Regions from separate parts of the Homo sapiens genome. Here region 2 is linked to region 1. The links come from fine-mapping of genetic effects on gene expression. Tissue or cell type: whole blood. Region 1 holds a variant in brackets; the other region holds the start of a gene. All regions are shown on one strand. Distances are between the middles of the regions.

Region 1 (9,914 bases):
TGAGCAAGAAGCTTTGGCCCCTTCACACAGGGACTCAGCCCAGGGGCTCCCCAGAAGGAGGACTGTCTCAGAGCAGCAACTCCTGAGAGCTCCGGGCCACTTTGTCACCAGTCCCAAACAGCTCAGTTCACTGTCCCCACCCTGCATTCAAAGCCTTTCAGATCAAATCTACCTGCCTGACTAATTAGAAATCTACATCACTAAGGGCAGTAAGTACTCAGAAAAGGACTGGCAGTTGTTATAACAATATCCCATTATTGGTGCCTGGTTGACATTTTCCTTTAAATCTATTAGCGCAGCGATTTACCTGAGGTTAACCAAGAAGTCAATTCTGTTGTTTTTTTTTTAAGAGTTTTTAATCTATGCTGCCCCAAACCATTATTTTTTGAATCAGCCAGATTATTTATATATGTAGATACAGATAGATAGATATGTTTATGTGTATACACATACATATGTGTATAAAGCATGTTATGTTTACAGACATATGAGTGGGTAAGTAAGTGGAGGGGGATAAAGATTATACGCTAGCTAATAACTACATGAATACAAAAGGCAACAACAATTAGCAAACATTTATGATCTGTTTGCCCATCTATTTTGTTTTTTTCAAACAACGTTGCAGGGAATTCAACACAAAGCTCTTTCACCTTAAGAAAAGCAAACATTTCTATTTCCCCATGCCCCTCTTGAAGTTCACCAGCCTCACTTCTAGTTGCAATCAATAAGTGCAGAATATTTTTAAGCATGTGTTTTAGTACTGAATTAATACCCATTACTTATTTACAGGCTTTCTTCAGGATTTGATCTAAGTAAGCTTGTACATTTCATTTCTTGACGTCAGCAGCCGAAGCAGAAACTCTCAAATAGTTACCTTTATGGAAAAGTTGTAACCAGGGACCCAAGTTGCAAACCTTCTCACTGACTCTGCTGTGGACAGTGGCTTGGTTGTGTTAATGCATGCTTTAAAATAGTGGCTCACAGCGGGGCCTCACCACAGAACAACCTGGGGAGCCTTTAAACCCTACCAATGCTGAGCCCTGCCCTAACTCGAGTCAATCTAAAACGCTGGAGGTGGGGCCCCGGCATTTGGACCGTTTTGAATCTTCCCAGGGAATTCTACTATCAGCCCAGGTTGATAACCAGAGCTCTAGAATATTCGGTATAACTCCCCAGCATTTACTAAACACACAGATGGGTCTAGTATCGGGCCAACCACTGTGAGAAACCAGGCAGTGGCCACATTGGCCTTCCTGGGAGGAAGAGATGGTTGCAAGTCGGGTGCCCACTGTCCCAGTTTGCTGGAGACTGCAGGGTTTCCTGGAACAGGCACTTTCAGTGCTAAAACCAGGACAGTCTCAGGCAAGCTAGGATGGTGGGTCACCTTGTGGATCTGTGTCCTTCATCTGTGAAGACAGTGGGGCCCAGGAGTCCTTCATGCAAACCCTTCCAACATTAGAGCAACTGCTCCCCAGCCCAGCTCTGCCACTAGCAGGACGGGCTTCCTCACAGAGGGAGGGAAAATCAGTGAGAGCCAGCCCTAAGGCCAGAATAGAGTCCAGATGGTGCTGACTTCTCAATGAGAACTAAGAAAATGGGTCCACAGAGTGGCCAAATATTGCCAGACCAGGCCCAGAGGACATTGGAATGGAGCTGAGAGGCAGCTATTACTCTCAAGAGTTCTTGAATCTTTGTAACTCCACCAGCACTGATTACTTTTCGTTAAATTCTGATTGTTTTCCTAGACGCCTCTCCTTCCCCCAGGGAGCTGACCCCGCCCGCCATCGCCCACCCCCACCAGCCCTGCGCCTCCAGCCTCCTGCAGACCTCCCACCCAAGGGCGCGCCCCACGCACTCTGCGGCAAGTCCTCGGCCCGGAAGACCTTCAGGCAGAAGTGGGCTCCTCGCAGGGCTACGCCTGTGGGCCGGAGCAGGTTGCTTTCAATGTCCTCCTTGTCTTCAGAGGGGTCTTTTCTCTCCAGCTACAAAGAAAACCAAATACGATTCCTTCATGCGCTCCTGAGCACAGGGTTTTACTTTCCTTTTCTAAGAGTTCCAGCTTCGCCACATAAATGCTGCATTCTGCAGTAAGGCAGACTGCGCTCCGACACTTACTACCGCGTGGTCTCGGGCAAGGTCCTTCACCTGAGCCTCAGCTTCCTCTTGAGTACAGCAGAGACCATGATACTGACCTTCCAGGACTGTGCGAGGAACATCTCCAGTAATGATGTAAATGCACGTGGCACACAGCAAGCATTCCACCAACCTCAGTCTCCTTCCCGCTCTCCCCCACCTCCCGGTTAAAACATAGTACAGTAGTAACTGAGGTCTAAGCTGGCCACTCTGTCTTTAATAACATGCAGGTGTTCATTCACCCAGCCATTAGCTACTGAGTGAGTACTAGGTGTCTGTATGGTGCTGAAGGGCAGGGGATATGGCAATGAATAAGGGGATGACATGAATAAGCACCCTGTTCCCATGGAGCTGACTATCATGCAGGGAAAACACTTTCAGCAAACGAATCCAATAACATGTACTGTGTCTTGTGGTTGGAACAGTAATAACAAAAATCACATCCCACATGCATTGATGTGTATGCACTCTCTCATTTAATCCTCATAGCACCCCTCCCTTGAATGGGTCTCAAACTTGGCGGCACATTAGAAACACCTGGGGAAGCCTGGGCGCCGTGGCTCGCACCTGTAATCCTAGCACTCTGGGAGGCCGAGGCAGGCGGATCACCTGAGGTCAGGAGTTCAAGACCAGCTCGCTAACATGGGGAAACCCTGTCTCTACCAAATAATACAAAAATTAGCCAGGCATGGTGGCATGCACCTGTAGTCCCAGCTACTCAGAGGCTGAGATGGGAGAATTGCTTGAACCTGGGAAGCAGAGGTTGCAGTGAGCCAAGATTGCACCACTGCACTCCAGCCTGGGCAACAAAGTGAGACCGCCCCCCGCCCCCACCATCTCAAAAACAAAAAAGGAAAAGAAAAGACTCACCTGGGAAACCCAGGTCACACCCTAGACCAATTAAAACAGAATTTCTGGGAGAGAGTACCCATGCAGCAGTGGCTTGTAAAGCTTCCCAGATGATTCCAACTAGCAACAGAGGCTGAGAATCAATGTCTTCTAGACCACTGCTGTGCATTCCAATTAAAATGCAGGTTCTAGTTCAGCAGGTGTGGGGTGGGGCCCAAGATTCTGCATTTCAAAAAGTGTCCAAGTGATGCCCACGCTGCTTGCCCACAGATGTTGCTCTGGGTGTAAGACCTAGAATGCCCCCACTTTACAGATAAGAAAGCTGAGGTGTAACACAGGCTGGAAGCAGAACCCACGTGCTTGGAGAGCACAGAGCAAGGGGGCTTGTAACTATACTGAGGTGGGGTCAGAAATGCTTCCCAGCTTGAGACCTGGATGATGAGCAACAGGTGGAGGCATCCAGACGAGGAGGCAACTCATGCAGAGGCCCTTGCACATGGGGAAGTCGGCAGCTGGAGGAACAGACAAAAGATCTGGTGGCTGCTCTTGGGCTAGCGAGCAGCGAAGGGACAGGAGAATAGCAAGGTCAGGCTGTGCCCAGCAGCCAACTCCTTGGACAGTTGCCTGGACTAGCCTCACCCCATTTCTCACTCAGTCACACTTGACACGTAGAAACCTGCTTCAGGATCCTTGCTGCAAAACCCTCAATCCCAGAATGCCCATATCACAGCATGCCCAAAGGGATGTGTTCTGCGTTTATTCTCCTCAGCTCATATCAGAAGAAAACAATCATCTTTCAGGCATCCATAAAAATGTCTATTCCCCTAGACAATAAGCACTGACTGAGCACCTACTGTGTACAAGACCTGCCGTACTAGGCAAGAGGGGAGATAAAAGATATCACATTTGCTATATTGTCCCCATCATCAAGAAACTGAATCTCAGTGATGAAGACAGACACATAAACTGATTAGACTACCAAAGGGCTGGGTGGTGGCCCAAAGGAAAGACCAATACATTTTCCTGGAAGACGAGGCAAGCTTCAGGGAGGAAGTAGCATCTGAACTGGGTCTGGAAGAACAAATTGGCTCTTGGTAGGCAAAGAGAGGGAAGGCATTCCAGCAGGGGAAAAGGCTAGAGAGGGATGGAAGAGCATTCTGGAAAGAGTCACATCATCTGGTGTGGCCACAGACGGGGCCCATGAAGATACATAACAGCAAGTGGGATTGGGAAACTAGGCTGAGGGCAAATGTCAAGGGCCTTGAATGTCATGCTAAGGATCTTGGACTCTATCCTAAAAGCAGTGGGAAGTCACTGGAGGTTTTGTAAGAGGAGACACGCGTGATTCTACCTGGGTTTAAAAGTGATGACTGGCGGCCAGGCGCAGTGGCTCACGCCTGTAATTTCAGCACTTTGGGAGGCCGAGGCGAGTGGATCACAAGGTCAGGAGTTTGAGACCAGCCTGACCAACATGGTGAAACCCCGTCTCTACTAAAAATACAAAAATTAGCTGGATATGGTGGCGCACGCTTGTAATCCCAGCTACTCAGGAGGCTGAGGCAGGAGAATCACTTGAACTCGGGAGGCGGAGGTTGCAGTGAGCCGAGATTGCACCATGGCACTCCAGCCTGGGTGACAGAGCAAGATTCTTTCTCAAAAAAAAAAAAAAAAAAAAAGATGACTGGTGATAAGGTGGGGATAGGTGAAGTATAACGTAAGAAGTTAGGAGACCTCAGAGGACACTTAGGATGGATGGCAGAGACTGCTAGTTGTTCCCCCAAATCCAGTCTTTTCTGCCTCCCCTAACAAACCCTCAATTTTTAGCTGGACAGCATTAGGATGGACTTTATTTCCCAGGCTCCCTCGTAGTTAGATGTGGCCATGTGACTAAGTTCTTGTCAATGGGACCTAAGCATAAATGTGTACAACTTCTGGATCATGCCTTTGAAGGAAGAGATGTGGCCTCCATTGTCCTTTACTCCCATTTCCCTGGCTGGAATACAGACATGGTGATGGGAACTGGAGCAACCATCTTGGGCCATGTGACGGAGGCTGCATGATGATCACAGTGGAGAAAAGACCAGGAGCCTGGGTCTCTGATCATTGCCGAAGCACTGTGCCAATTCTGGACTGTGGCATTC[A/G]TGAGAGAGAAATAAACCTCTGTCCTCCTTAATGCCTATTATTTGGGGCATCTTTGTTACACCAGCTGAACCTATATTGTAATTCACAAAGAGACCCAAGTGAGAGAGAGTGGGAGCTGGACCTCAAACTCCTGTCTTGGGATGGGAAAAAGAAGAGGCGTACACTGAGGTTTTCCACCAACAAGACTGGCCAACTGCTTGCATGGGGATTGAGGGGTAAAGAATGAAACTCTGGCCTCTGGTTTGGGGGACTAAGTGGATAATCATGCAATTTCCTAAGATGTCACCTAATACGGGATGGGGAACAGGTGTGGGGAGTGGGCAGCAAATGATACAGGCTTTGCTATAATAAGTTAGATTTACTATAATAAGTTAGAGGGGCCTAAGGGACATGTTAATGTGGCCTGATGACAAGGCAACTGAAACTGAGCGTCCAGAGCTCAGAAGATCCAGGCTGGAGAAGAGCAATTTACAAGTCTCAGGTGGTGTCTGAAAGAGACGGACTCCTCAACAGTGACGGGCAGGACACAGCAAGGGAACAGGGACTGAACTGCAACATCGAATTTGAAGAACCCACTGGAAAAGGAGCAAGGAGAGTCATGAATACTAAGGGAGGAGACAGTTTCAAATAAGGCGTGGGCTCCAGAATCGAACGCTATGGAGCAGTGGTGCAGTCTAACAACAGAGGAGAGCTCCTAAGCTATGGTAATGAGTGACCCTTACACCAGTGGCTTCAGGGAGGGGAGGTGGTGGGATTCCTACTGAAGAGGAGAAGGAATGAGCAGCTGGCAATGGAGTGGAAAAAGGGGGATGCAGTGCACCCTTTCAAAAGTTGGTGATGACCAGCAGTAGGAGAGAGAGAAAATAGTAGTGGAGAGGAGGGGTGGGGAGAAATGGGTCAAGGAAGGGGTGTTTTAGGATGGGGAAATCTTGAGCCTGGTACAGATCATGGAGAAGGAGGCAGAGGAGACAAGTGTGAGAAGAGACCAGAAAGAGGAGGCTAAAGAAGACAGTGGAGGATGTGAAGTCATGGCCAAGGAGGTGGTGGGATAATGCAGCGGGAGGGGCGGAGGAAGGGAGGGAAGGTGGATGAAGATGGGGGGCAAGTTGAGGACCACAGGAGCTCCCAGAGCTCTCACCACTCATCGCTGTGCAGCTCTGCCTCTCCAAGGGAAGCTGAGGTTGGAGCTTAGGAAAGGGAAGAAAGTCTGGGAACAGCCAGGAGAGATAAGGAGTAAGGAGATGAGGAGAATTAGATAAGGAGTAAACTATACCCAGGTAAAGGAAGAGGCGGACAGCACCCGGGGCCCAGCTAAGTGGAGAAGTAGAAACCCACATTCATCCAAGCAGCACGTCCAGGTGGCCAAGGAGCCAGTGTGTGGTGAGGATGGGGGAGACACGAGGCATGGCAGGAGACCCCAGGGGCCCTGTCCTCCTCTCCCTCCCTGCACAAAGCCATCAGCCATATTCAGGTACCTCACCCCTGACCTTCACCTCACCCCTGACCTTCAGCACTCCTGGCTTGCCCTCACCCAACACGTCCACCACCCACCTGCCTCTCTTCTGCTTCTGCGCTGCTGAGCACCATGAGGCAAGTGGCTCCACTACAAACAAAGCGTCCAACCCAGAGTGGGTGCTCTGGTGTTTGTACAGAAATCCTTTCATTAAATCTAACCCCTCACTCCTCTCCCACAAAGATGATTCCAAACCTTTTCTCCTCTTCTCAAACATAGAAAGATGCAGATACCTCTCCTGCTCTCAACATTTTTCTCATTCTTACCACCTCCAACTTATAACTTTACTTACTGACATGTGGAGATGAGCATGATACATTCTTAGGCCATGAAATTCAAGTCACAATATAATATATATAGAATAATCTCACTGTTGCAAAAAGAAAATATGTGCATATATCCTTCCAGAGGGATGTGCAATGAGACAATAATAGCTCTCTCGGAGTGGTAGGATTATGAGTGATTCATTTTTTATTAATACCTTGCACCCAGAGCATTCATTTTTTATTAACACCTTTCTACATGTTCCACATTTCTCATTAATTACCACATATTAGTTTAAATCAGAAAAAAAAATAGAGTTTTTGTTTGTGGTTTGGTGCCTCCGCAACCAAGTGCCGCGTGGGGGACCGTAAGGAAGACCCAGGGAAATGTACTCACAGGCGCTTCGTCCCCAGGCCCCAGCACACAAAGGCTTGTTTTCAGGTAGCCTCTGGCCCCAGCAGAGAAGTCATCAGGGTCTGAGAGCAGCAGCCACTTCCTGAGATAGGCGTGCCCTAAGAGAGACAACATCCTCTGGTGATCCCAGAATCAGAAGACCCCAGGCTGTGGCCACATCCGGGAACCCAGGATGGACTGCACAGGGGAGGTAAAGGACTCATCCGCTGGGCCATGAGCTCAGGACTCAGATTCTAGAATCAAAAGGTACTTTGAGTGTTCATGTGGTCAGAGTCAGAAATATTAACAGAAACGCCTGTAAGAGGCTGGCAGAGCCAAACCCAAGGCATTTTCCTCCCCTTCAGGAAGTGACCAGATCAGAATGGAAACCAGGGTGAGGAGAAATCCTGGCTTGTCACCCAAATGACCTGTCCCTGTCTGCCGTGAGCCCAGTGTCCAGTAATGGGGCCTTTCAGATCTAGCCTCCCTGAATGGGCCAACGGAGACACAGGTGAGTGTTACACCCTCCCGAGGGCCTGTCTCACATGGAGGATGAATGACCTGCTTTCTCTCCCAAGATCAAACCCTTCCTCTAGATTCTAAAACCCCCAGGAGGGACAGTGAGGACCCCAAATGAGTGTCCCCAATCAGCCTCCAGAACCAAAATGCAAGGATACGGCCAAAGTGGTGAGAACTCACGGGGCTCTCTGTAAATGGTGCCCACGTCCATCTGCAATCAATGAGAGGAGACACAAATCAAACTCTTGCCGCCAAAGCGTTAAATAAAGTGTGGTGCATTATATGATTCCATTAAAAACCATGTTTTTGAAGAACATTTGGAAACACAGGCAGTCAACATTTGATACTACATGAAAAGAAAATGAAATATATTTTGATCCCAGTTTGATAAAGAATGCTTATGTACAGAAAAGAAAGAGGAAAGGAGGCTGGGCGTGGTGGCTCATGCCTGTAATCCCAGCACTTTGGGAGGCCAAGGCAGGTGGATCACTTGAAGTCAGGAGTTCGAGACCAGCCTGACCAACATGGTGAAACTCCATCTCTATTAAAAATACAAAAAAAAAAAAAAAAAAAAAAACTAGCCGGGTGTGGTGGTGCATGCCTGTAATTCCAGCTACTTGGGAAGCTGAGGCAAGAGAATCACTTGAACCCAGGAGTTGGAGGTTGCAGTGAGCCGAGATCATGCCATTGCAATCCAGCCTTGGCAACAAGAGCAAAAATCCGTCTCAAAAAAAAAAGAGGAAAGGAAATTCAACACAATAGGACTATGTTATCCCTGCATGGTAGATTTGGATTATTTTTATTTCATTTTTTATTCCTTCCTGTGTTTTACAATTTTCTATTAAAAATCCACAGATGATTGGGATGATGATAGTGGGGAAGGCTGCAGGGGGCAGCAGGGGCAGGGGGCAGGGAGTATATGGGAACTGTGTACATTCCACTTAATTTTTGCTGTGAACCTACAACAGTCTGTTTTAAAAAGTCGTCTTTTTTTTAAATCATAGATTACTTTTATAATTAGATACAAGTAAAATAATTTTTTGACTTAACCCTTGGGTTCTCAGAACAAGACTCAAAACATAATTAAGATTTAATTTGTTACAGAATGACTTGGGCTCAAGCTCATTCTTTTAAAAAATGCTTCTCCAGGTAAACAGACTTAGTTTTTTATCTTGTGACTTCTTCCCACAGGCAATGATTTGAGAAGACAGCGCAAAGACAAAGAAATCTCACCCACTGATCTAGCCATCAGGTCCAACCCAGTAATTTTTTTTTTTTTTTTTTTTTTTTTTTTTTGAGATGGAGTGTCGCTCTGTCATCCAGGCTGGAGTGCAATGGTGCGATCTTGGCTCACTGCAACCTCTGCCACCCAGGTTCAAGCGATTCTCCTGCCTCGGCCTCCTGAGTAGCTGGGATTACAGGCGCATACCACCATGCCCAGCTAATTTTTGTATTTTTAGTAGAGGCGGGGTTTTACCATGTTGGCCAGACTGGTCTTGAACTACTGACTTCAAGTGATCTGCCCACCTTGGCCTCCCAAAGCACTGGGATCACAGGCATGAGCCACTGCGCCTGGTCCCAGCAATTATTTATTGGGCAGAATAAATAATTCTAAGGTAACTTCTGACAACAGGCAGAACCAAGCCCCTTATTTTAAATTCATATTTAAAATACAAATTTAAAGAAGGAAGGCATGATATACTTGGATAGAGGGGAGAGGGGAAAATAAGCTTGTGCTCTTTCTTTCCTTTTGAGAAATCCTTGAAAATTTCAAAATGAGAAAATTAGTAACAATTACATCAAATTACATTAAAACACCATGCAGGCCAGGCACGGTGGCTCATGCCTGTAATCCCAACACTTTGGGAGGCCAAGGTAGCCAGATCACAAGGTCAGGAGTTCAAGACCAGACTGACCAAGATGGTGAAACCCCATCTGTACTAAAAATACCAAAAAAAAAAAAAAACTGCCAGGCGTGGTAGCACACGCCTCTAATCCCAGCTACTGGGGAGGCTGAGGCAGGAGAATCACTTGAATCTGGGAAGCAGAGGTTGCAGTGAGCTGAGATCACACCACTGCACTCCAGCCTGGGCGACAGAGC
Region 2 (9,914 bases), 57 kb after region 1:
TATCTTCTGCACTTTCCTTGTATGTTAAATTTTATAACTAAAATTTTTAAGAAAAAAAATCTTGGAGGAAATGTGTCAAATTGTTAACAAGTTAATTCAAAGTGGCAGGATTTGGGGCTATTTTTTACTCTTGCCTCATGGCCTTTCTGTAGTTTGTCATTTTTAACAGCAAGTACATATTATGTTTATAAAAAGAAAACAGGCTAGGCGGGGTGGCTGACACCTGTAATCCAAGCACTTTGGGAGGCCAAGGTGGGTGGATTGACTGATGTCAGGAGTTTGAGACCAGCCTGGGCAACATGGTGAAACCCCATCTCTACTAAAAATAAAAATAAAAATTAGCCAGGCATGGTTGCAGGTGCCTGTAATCCCAGCTACTCGGGAGGCTGAGGCAGGAGAATCACTCGAACCTGGGAGGCGGCGGTTGCAATGAGCCGACAACGTGCCATTGCACTCCAGCCTGGGTAATAAGAGTGAAAGTCCATTTCAAAAAAAAAAAAGAAGGAAGGAATGAAGGAAGGAAGGAAGGAAGGAAGGAAGGAAGGAAGGAAGGAAGGAAAGAAGGAAGGAAGGAAAGAAGGAAGAGAAGAGAAAGCTCTTTTCTTTTTTTTTTTTTTTTTTTTGAGATGGAGTCTCACTCTGTCACCCAGGCTGGAGTGCAGTGGCTCAATCTTGGCTCACTGCAACCTCCGTCTCCTGGGTTCATGCCATTCTCCTGCCTCAGCCTCCCGAGTAGCTGGGACTACAGGCACCCACCACCACACCCGGCTAATTTTTTTTGTATTTTTAGTAGAGACAGGGTTTCACCATGTTAGCCAGGATTGTCTCGATCTCCTGACCTCATGATCCACCCGCCTTGGCCTCCCAAATTGCTGGGATTACAGGCGTGAGCCACCACGCCTGGCCGCTGTTTTCAATATTTTAAGTCATTTGTAATATGTAAACAGCTAGGTTCAGAGAGTCCGGGGCCTTCAGCCCACTTTCCCTACATAGGTGAGTTAAGAGTGTTCCCTGACGACAGGAATCCACCTCCAACTAGTTCTATAAGATCCCCCAACTCCTGCCCCAAATCTAGAGACCCCCAGGAGATCAAGAAGAGAAGAGGTGGGAGGGGGAGGCTGGAGGAGGAGACGCCCTGACAGGATGAGAGAGAGGGAAGTGTCAGTAATGACTTCTGGGTTCCTGGCTGATGACACAGGGCAGAAATTCACCAAGTGGGGACGCAGCAGATCTGGCCTTCAAGGAAATAAGATGTTTCAGCTTTAAAGCAGTAGGGATCTGGTTTTGTTCTTGTATGCATCCAAGCACCTAGAAAAGCACCAGGCACGTAGTAGGTACTCAGTAAATATTTGTTCAATGAACTAACTGCATGAATAGAGGGATATAAATAATCACATTAAGGAATGGAAAATGGGCAGGGCAGAAAAGAAGTACAGACAATTAAATGCTATAGGAAATTAAGCTGCTCGTTGACACAATCAGTCAAAAATATCTACTATGGCCCAGTTACTCATGGTAGTTTTAGTTAATGAATTAATTAATAGAAAAACAAAAGAATGAGAAGTATTCATTAGTAGCCTCTACTATTAATAGAGGTGCTTAGACAGGGAAGCCAAAAAATTGCCCTCAGAGTCCAGCCTCCCAGAGCTCATAGTCTATTTTGGGAGGCAGGTCCTGAAATTACATCCGAGACAGGGAACAACTGCAAGGAAAGTGGGGCCAGCCCAGCCCCATACATTTCAGGCTGCCTGTAGGAGCCAAACACACAGTGCAGGCTGGCTTCTCTGCAAGCAGGCCACTGTCCCATCTGTGCCATGAGGAGCTGGGCTCAGTGGTTCTCAACCCTGACTGCACATTCAAAACACCTGGAAATTTGACAGAAACAACACCTATGCCTGGGGCCCCACCGGAAGGGATCTGGCTTCAGAAAAGGCAGGCAGGGAGGTTGGCAGTGGTCTTTGGTGAAGCTCCCACACACAATGTTGACCTGCAGCCAGAGTTGAGTCCCCCCAGCCTACATGCTCTGTAAGTTCTGAACCTGGTTCTAACGGTTTCCCTCCTTAGGCATCAACTCAGCCCCAAACTCCCCAGTGAATGCTCCCGCAATGGGGAGCGCATTAATTTCACCTGCCATCACATCTCAGACCCATTTTTCCCAAGATGCGGTTCCAAAATAACCTGCATCGGGTATTTGTTAAGTGCTGATTCTTAGGTCACCTTCCAGACCTGCTGCATCGGAACCTCTACAGATGGGGACTCTGGAATCTGTTTCTCAAACACGTTCTACAAGTGATTCTCAGGAACAATCAAGTGAGCGGACCATGTCCCAGACTAAATGAAGCTCCCAGGCACACCTGGAGGATGGCTAGAGGCTGGGCCAGAAAGCGCACAAACACTAGAGAGCACCTACTTGTGCTCAGCACTGGGACAAACCAATGAACAAATAGGACAGGTCACTGCTCTCAAGGCACCTAAGCATGGAGCTGAGCACAGGCCAGTCAGGGCGAGGGTGCTAGCATCCCTAGCAAGGTGCTGCTGCTTGTCATCCAGAGAGGAGAGACTCTTGAGAGCCAGGGGGATCCAGGGTGTCCTCCTGGAGAAGGTGGCATTGCCCTGGGCTTTGAAATACAAATAGACTTGAAACGGTTGGAGATGTTACATTCTATTGTATGGTATTTCTGTTTTCCGAGGAGATCATCAGTGCAAATAAATAGTAAGGCATTACAAAGAAGGAATACAGAGATCTGGGGGGAGATAGCAGCTGCACGTGTTCGGGGTACTTGGGCGAGGGCAATAGTAAAGAGGGGCCTCAAGGGATTTGGTCATCTTCCCGACTCAAGGGCAATACCCACTCCAAGCGCTGGTAGCTCCCTGCCATGACCACTGACCTGAACACATTTAACTTCCCTGGGTTTCAATTTCCTTATTTGCAGAATGGAGACATTGGTAGCCACCACAGGACTGTTACAGGACAAGGGAAAGAGCTGTGAGCAGACCCAAACGAGTGTTAGAGCATCCAGAGCCCTATGCTAATGTGTGCCCTGCCCAGTGTCCTTAGGGAATTTCTTTTCCAGCCAATGGTGACACCGCAATTTCTGCATAGCAAAGCCTTAGGCAGCATCAGGTGGACACTGGAGAAGGAAAGACTTTGTCTTGAAGTTGCTCTTGCATAGTGAACTCCCAGGCATGTCACCAATCAATGAAAATAGTGAAATTTTCTTAAACGTTTCAAATCACATCTTTCAAAAGAGGAATACATATAACTTGTCCCACAGCAAAGAATAAAAGCTACACATAAATCTCCCTTTGCCAAATCATGTCTTTCATCTATCATTATCTTGGGGGTGCTTGGAGATATGATTCAGATCATGGGTCAGACTGAAAAGAGTTCCCTTGGTGCCTGCACTGAAGGAGGCTTATGAAAACACCAGCTACTCTTCCTTCTTCATTTGACTATCTTTTCTGATACGTAGATTTTTATTATTATTATTATCGATTCCACAAAGCTACAGGGTATGGCTCCTGGCTAAGTGGAAACCCTCTTTCCTCTCCTGATTTATCTTTCTCTGCAGAACTGGGGTCCTGACTCACAGCTATTGTTCCTTCTCTTAATTTTGACAGATCCTTCCTCTTCCCTTTCCCCTCCTGAGACACCCGCTCCAGTGGGAATCTGCCTTGGAGGGGTTGGGGGAGGGGGTTCAGGACGCCTGGTGAGAAGAGGAGTGTGTGTGTGATTTCTCTGCTGCCCCACACAGAAATACCTGTATGTATTCTAAGCACTACATGTAGGGACTTAGCTTCTTGAATTTAGAGAAAATATCCTTGACATTCCTCAAAACTCCTTGTGTCAAGGCCATTTCCATCCTATTCTGTTCCTTTTCCTACTGATTAAGACGGGGCAGATTCAATACAGCCAATGTTGGATAAAGATGGGTGAATGAATGAATGAATGAATGAAAAAAGACACAACTTTCAAAGCACATCATCTACACGCCCCGTTTTTCAGAGGCCCTGATTCCTCTCTACCTTCTGCACCCATCTTCCAACTTACCCTTATCCCCACTACCCAGTAAAAGCTCGGACTTTATTTCCTCTGGGTGTCAGTCTTAGAAAAGTGATAACCGCTGACCTACGGCACTTTCGCTTTTCCAATTTTTCAAAGCCCTGTGGCATTTATTGTGCTCTGCTTATTCCTCATCGCCCCCCTGCAGAAGTCGGGGCTGGGATTTCCGTCCCTGCTGACAAAGGGAGAAACTGTGGCCTGGACTAGGGTTAGCTCCGGAGCAGGGGCTTCAGACCCGCCAGTGAGCGCCGAGAGTCGGGTAGCACCCGAGCATGGGCGCGGCAGCCACGGGGCTCTCACCTCGGAAAGTCAGGCTTGCGACAGGGTCGCTGCGCCGGTCCTTCTTCGCACTGGGGAGGTTGCTGGCCCTCACCAGCAGGCAGCACAGCATGGCTGGGCAGCCCCGGCGGCACACAGGCGCGCAGTCAGGGCGGGAGCGGGAGCACCGGGCCCGAGCACCCACCCAGCAAGCGCCCGGCTCCCAGGCAGCCGCGCCAAGAGAGCTGTCGCCTTCGCTGCTCCTCCGCGGAGAAGTGACCAATGCCTGGGAGAGGCTGCAGGGAGGACACCGGACACCCGCTGGGCGGACCCTCCCCCTCCGGCCCCTACCCAGATCCGCCCTGCCCGCGGCGGGCGGGGAGGGACAGGGGTCAGACGGGCGCCTGTGGGGGTGCTGGTCCCTAGCTCCGCGGGTCCCAGCTCCCGGCCAGGAACGAGGCGCCGCTGACGCGGGCGCGCAGCTCGGCCTCCGAGAGCGCACAAGGCGCCGTGGGGCCTGCTCCGCGGGGGCCTCCGGTGACCAAGGCTCCACACCAGCCAGGGATCCCGGGCCCGGTGCGCACCGGTGCCGACTTGGCAGCCGCCCTGTGCGCTCGACGAAAGGGTGAGAAGGAGGCAGGAGTGCAGGCGGAAGGAGTGGGCAATCAGCGGCGGGGACGAGAGTGTGTCTTCGGGGAAACCAAGTCTGAGTGAGCGCTGAAGGGGGAGTGTGCGGAGCGTGCCGTGCACCCCGAGCCCCCCGCCTCATTGCCTCTCGCCTCTCTCCACCTGCCCCATGATCTGCGCCAGGGAGCCGGTCCTCTCCCGTCCGCAGGCTGTCTAGGTGGCCGTTCTGGTTTGCTGGGACCCCCGGGTCGGGAGAGACTCCGAGGTTCGAGTCCCCACCAACCCTCCTCGGAGCCTTCTCCGCAGCGGTGTCGAGTCACTCATCTCTGGAGGCAGAGATCTGTATTCAAATCATACTGCGTTCCCTGGAGAACTAGGGTCCAGCTGCGGCCCATTCTGTCCCCTGCAAGTCCCCCATCCCCAACAATCTCTACACTCCCTAGTCTCCACAGTGGAAAGCTGTTCAAGGTGTAAGCCATGAACGGTGACAGTCGTTTCGCTTATTATGTCTGGTTCCTTTCCAGCGTATGAACTTCTTGACACAGGGGCCCTGGCTTCGCACTTCTATCCCCCAGCACTCCAGCACCTAGCCCCTGTCAGGGCACTGTCCGTCTTCCCACCGCCCAAGTCCTCACTAACCAACCTGCTCACTCAGCCTAAACGCACTGCTGCGCAAAATCTCAACTCCCTTTCCCCTCTCTTATTTTGAGGGATACAGCATTCTCACAGGGCTAAGCCATAACCCTGGCGAATCCAACTCCGCCTCCTCCACACCTGCCCCCAACCAGTGCTGTGTTGGAGAGTAACACAGCCGGCCTGAGTGGTGCCTTTTGTAGTCATGACCCTTAACTCAAGCGAGCCCTCACTGCTGGGGGCAATCATACTATATGTCTTGTCTCCCTGTCTCCCGGATGCCCCTAGGACACCCCATCGCCCAACCTCACTCTCAGTTTGCTTCCTCTTTACGGAGCAGAGAACTTCTTCAGGTCCCCAGTCTCCTTCTAACGCCCGCCCTCGGCATCTGTGCCCAAATCCTGTGAGTTCTCTCCTGTTCCTACAAATGAATCACCCGTACTCCCCACTGGTAACAACTGGACACTTGGGCATAGACCCCATCCCCTCTCGCCCATTCAGTGGTGAGCCTGCAGTGATTCTCTCACTCTCTTGCCTTACCAAGTTCCCCTGTTTACCGGATCATCCCATCGGCACACAAGCATGATGTTATTGCTCTCAAGAAAGCACACCGTTGACCCCACATCCCCTTCAGCTACTGGTCATTTCTCCCTTTTCACAACAATGCCCTTTGAAGGAGCTCTCCATACTTTCTGTCTCCAATCTCCCTCCTCCATTCTCTCTTGAACCCACCCAGTGACACCTTCAACCCCACCAGGTCACCAAAACTGCAAATCCCCCTCCCACTCTCCTTCAAAATATGTCCAAAATCCCACCATATCTCACCATCTCCATTGTAACTGCCCCCAGTGGAAGCCTGTCATCCCTTGCCTGAGTCATTTAATCGACTCCATGGACTCCCAATGCGTCTCCTGCTCTGCCCTTGTCCCCATGGTCTATCCTCAATTCAATTCTCATGACCTGGTTCTACTCAAAGTCTTCCGTTGGCTCCCATCTCACTCAGTGCAAAACTCAAAGGCCTTACGTGACCTTGAAAGCCCTGGCTGACCTCGCTGACCTCCTCTCCAGCCACTCTCCCCTTACGTGACCTTGAAAGCCCTGGCTGACCTCTCTGACCTCCCCAGGACCCATGCTAGCCTTCCAGCTGTTCCCCAGACAGGCCAGACCAGCGCCTCCCCAGGGTCTCTGTCAGCTGTTCCCTCTGGCTGGCATGTCTTCCTTTCCTTCAGATATCAACTCCAGTGAGACCAACCCGGCCACACAACTGAACACCACAACTTTCCCTCTTTCATCTCCCTTTCAGGCTTCTTCTCTAGCACCAATCACTGTATAGCACATGTGTCTTAATTGTTTTCTGTCTTCCCCATCAGAATGTCTGCTCCAAGGAGCCAGGGGTTTTTGTCTGTTTTGTCCACTGCTGTTTCCTCAGTGCCTGAAACAGCACCTGGTGCAAAGCATGGTCTCCATAAATTCTTTCTAAATGATGGACTGAAAGAATAAACATTCACCCATCACCTCTGACTTGCTGGGAATAAGTCACATCCCTGCCCTCAGGGAGCTTCCAGTCAAGGGGTAGAGACCACAGAGGGTGGCAACCACATCTACAGCTCCCAAGAAGTGGAAGGTCGGTAAAGGACAGAGCTAGGATGAGCATGGGGGTGGGGAAAAGGAAAGAGAGGAGAGTCTGAGCCTGTTCTCATCACAACGCCTTCTCTAGCTGCTTGGACCCTTGCTGCTTCCTCCCAGCTCTACCCTTCTCTTCTCCCCTCAAGATGAGGCGGACATTTGATTCCCTCAACATCCATCCAGACCCCCTTCCCTTCTAGCAGAACCTGACTGCTCAGTTATGCAGCCCCAGCTCCAGGATGGATCCCACTCTATCTGAGCATATTTCTTGGCAACGGCTATTGGTCTAGCTAGAGGTATGTGTCCTAAGTTGTTCCCCTGGAAAGACAGATTTATATGCCATGAATAGAGAAGCCCAACTCCCTCTCCTGCTTTGTGTGCATAAGGAAGCTTGCAGATCCAATTGCTGACCAGTTGAGGACATAGCAGACATCATGGACAGCAGATCAGAGAGAAACATGGAGCCTGCCTGGGTACAGGATGATACTATGGAGTTGCTGGCAGCAGCGGCCCATCTGGAGTGGCCACTGCCAAGACGTGGGCTGCAGTGGAGAGTCTGGCCAGTGTTGTGCACTCTGCAGAGCCGGTGGGGGCTGGGAACAGGTGGGAGCCCCGCCCCCTACCAAGTTGGTGGGGTGGGAGCCCCAAGCTCCCAGGCACAGCTGCAGCCGTTTGGCTGCGGCCCCAGATCCAGGCATCCCTGCACTCTCTGGGGCCCAGGAAGCTTGCAGGCTCAGAAGTGCCTTCGCCCCATCTCTGGCCTCTCCCAACTCCAGTCACCCACTCCAGGGTGGAGCAAAGTTGTGTCCAAGCCCACATGCTGTTGCAACCCAGCCAGATGTGTGCACACTTGTGGTGGCACTGAGATGCCAGCCCCCTGCTGCCTCAACCCCCTCCAGACTTTGAGCACTGACAAGCTCAGGAGGGAAGCTGAGGGGTAGCTCCACCTGGAACTGCAAGCACCCCTCTGCATGAACAGCCTAGGTGCCCTAGACGACATGTTGATGGCAGCAGGAGGCAGACAGGCTCCTGGGCAGAAAGGGGTGGGTCCTCAGTGAAACCCCACCTACAAGCCAGGGATGGCCTGAAGCCTGGGGGCTGGGCTGCCAGTTCCAGGTGGAGTCCTCAGCCCAGAGTGAGAACTTATGGTGCTTTTTCCCCCAGCCTGCTCCTGGTCACCCATGGACCAAACAGCACACACTTCCTCCCTTCTGAGCCCATAAAATCCCAGGACTCAGCTAGACTCAGACAGATGTTGGGACTACCAGGTACAGGAAGGAACTACCCACTCCAGGTCAGGTCTCCTCCACTTGTCGGGAAGACCTGCCTGCGGTGACGAGCTACCCTATGTGGGTCTCCTCTCTGCTGAAAGCTAGACACTTATCAGGAGGACCTGCCTGCAGAAAGGAACTACCCACTTCGGGTTTCCTGAGAGCTGTTCTGTCACTCAGTGAAGCTCTCTCCACCTTGCTCACCATCCAGTTGTCTGTGTACCTATTCTTCCTGGACATAGGACAAGGACCCAGGACCCACTGAACAGCAGGACTGAAAGAGCTGTAAGACAAACAAGGCTGAAACAGCCTGCCCCCCACCCCAACCCTGCTCGCCATGTTGCAGGCAACGAGAACGAGATAAAGCTTCAGCACTTTGGGGAGCCCAGACCTAGGGGTGACATGGCTGTGACACCCTCTTTGGGGCTCTGCAGTTCCTGGTGCCTCCAAGCTTCTGGGCACCACCACATTCCCCAGTAGCCACAGTGGAAGCCCCTTCCAGTATGCCTGGCCCAGCCGCAGCCTGGCACAGAGCCAGTGCCTGTACCAGCACCTGGAGCTGCCTGCCCCACCACAGCTGGCATGCCTGGCTGTGCGCAGTGGCTGGACCCTGCACTCACTCACACACCCCTTGCTGTTCAGTGCCTGGCTCGCCCTTCGCAGGCGTGGGATCAGGGCTGGTACTGAGAGCTGAGCACAGCCTGCCAGGCTGAGTGGGCAGAAGGAGCCCAGTGGGCCCAAGCAAAATTCAGGCAAAGGTGCTACCAGCCACAGAGGTTTCCAGCTGGAAAAAGCAACACCCTTAGGATCCTGTGACAGAGTTGTATAGTCTATATGCCCAGAGCTCACTGGGTCTCTGGACACCAGTTAAGTGAGCTGATCCCCTTAAGACTACTTAGCATTTAATAAATTGATTTTCCCAAGGCTTAAACATGGGGTGTCCAGGAGGCAAACAAACCTTGCCTCTCTGCTCATTTAAGTCTATTTAAGCCAGGATTTCAGTTGCTTGCAGCCTAAATCATCCTTACTGACCCCTGTGACTTTGGTACCATCTGTGTGCCCACAGCATCCAAGTGACTCCACCAAGTCTTACCACCACCCTCTCCTGCCCAGGCCACTGCAGGTGCCTCCTAGCTGGTCAGTCGCCTCATCACATCATCACTCTGGCTATGTCTGACCCATTATCCACACTGCAGCCAGGTGATCTTAAATATGATCAGGTCAATCTCCTGCTAAAAGCCTCTTGGGAGGTTTATCCAAAGGCCTCCTGTGCTCTTGGGATGAAGCCCAGATTCATTTCCTCGGGCCAAAGGGCAAGGCCATTCCACCTCTCGCTCTCCTAGCTCTAGCTCCGGTGCCTCGTCAGTTTCTAGAATATGCCAAGCTCCCTCTCAGCTCTGAGGTCCGCTGTTCTCTCTGCCTCCAGCTGCCTTCTT

What was found. PIP is the estimated chance that this variant, and not a neighbour inherited with it, causes the effect.
Region 2: DYSF starts here. The variant in region 1 is fine-mapped to the expression of DYSF in whole blood (TOPMed, PIP 0.93).

What each region holds. Positions count from the first base shown.
Region 1 is chr2:71,518,288-71,528,201 of GRCh38, reverse strand. DYSF (dysferlin) reads right to left here. Exons shown (of 56, transcript NM_001130987.2): 11 at 7,994-8,024; 12 at 7,298-7,413; 13 at 1,856-1,982. Among named protein-coding and RNA genes, the nearest start is that of DYSF, 57 kb to the right of the region's middle. RefSeq lists an enhancer at 1-448. The variant A/G (reference allele first, on the strand shown) is at 5,124.
Region 2 is chr2:71,461,383-71,471,296 of GRCh38, reverse strand. It overlaps DYSF (dysferlin), which reads right to left and starts at 4,598. Exons shown (of 56, transcript NM_001130987.2): 1 at 4,364-4,598. The coding sequence starts at 4,454.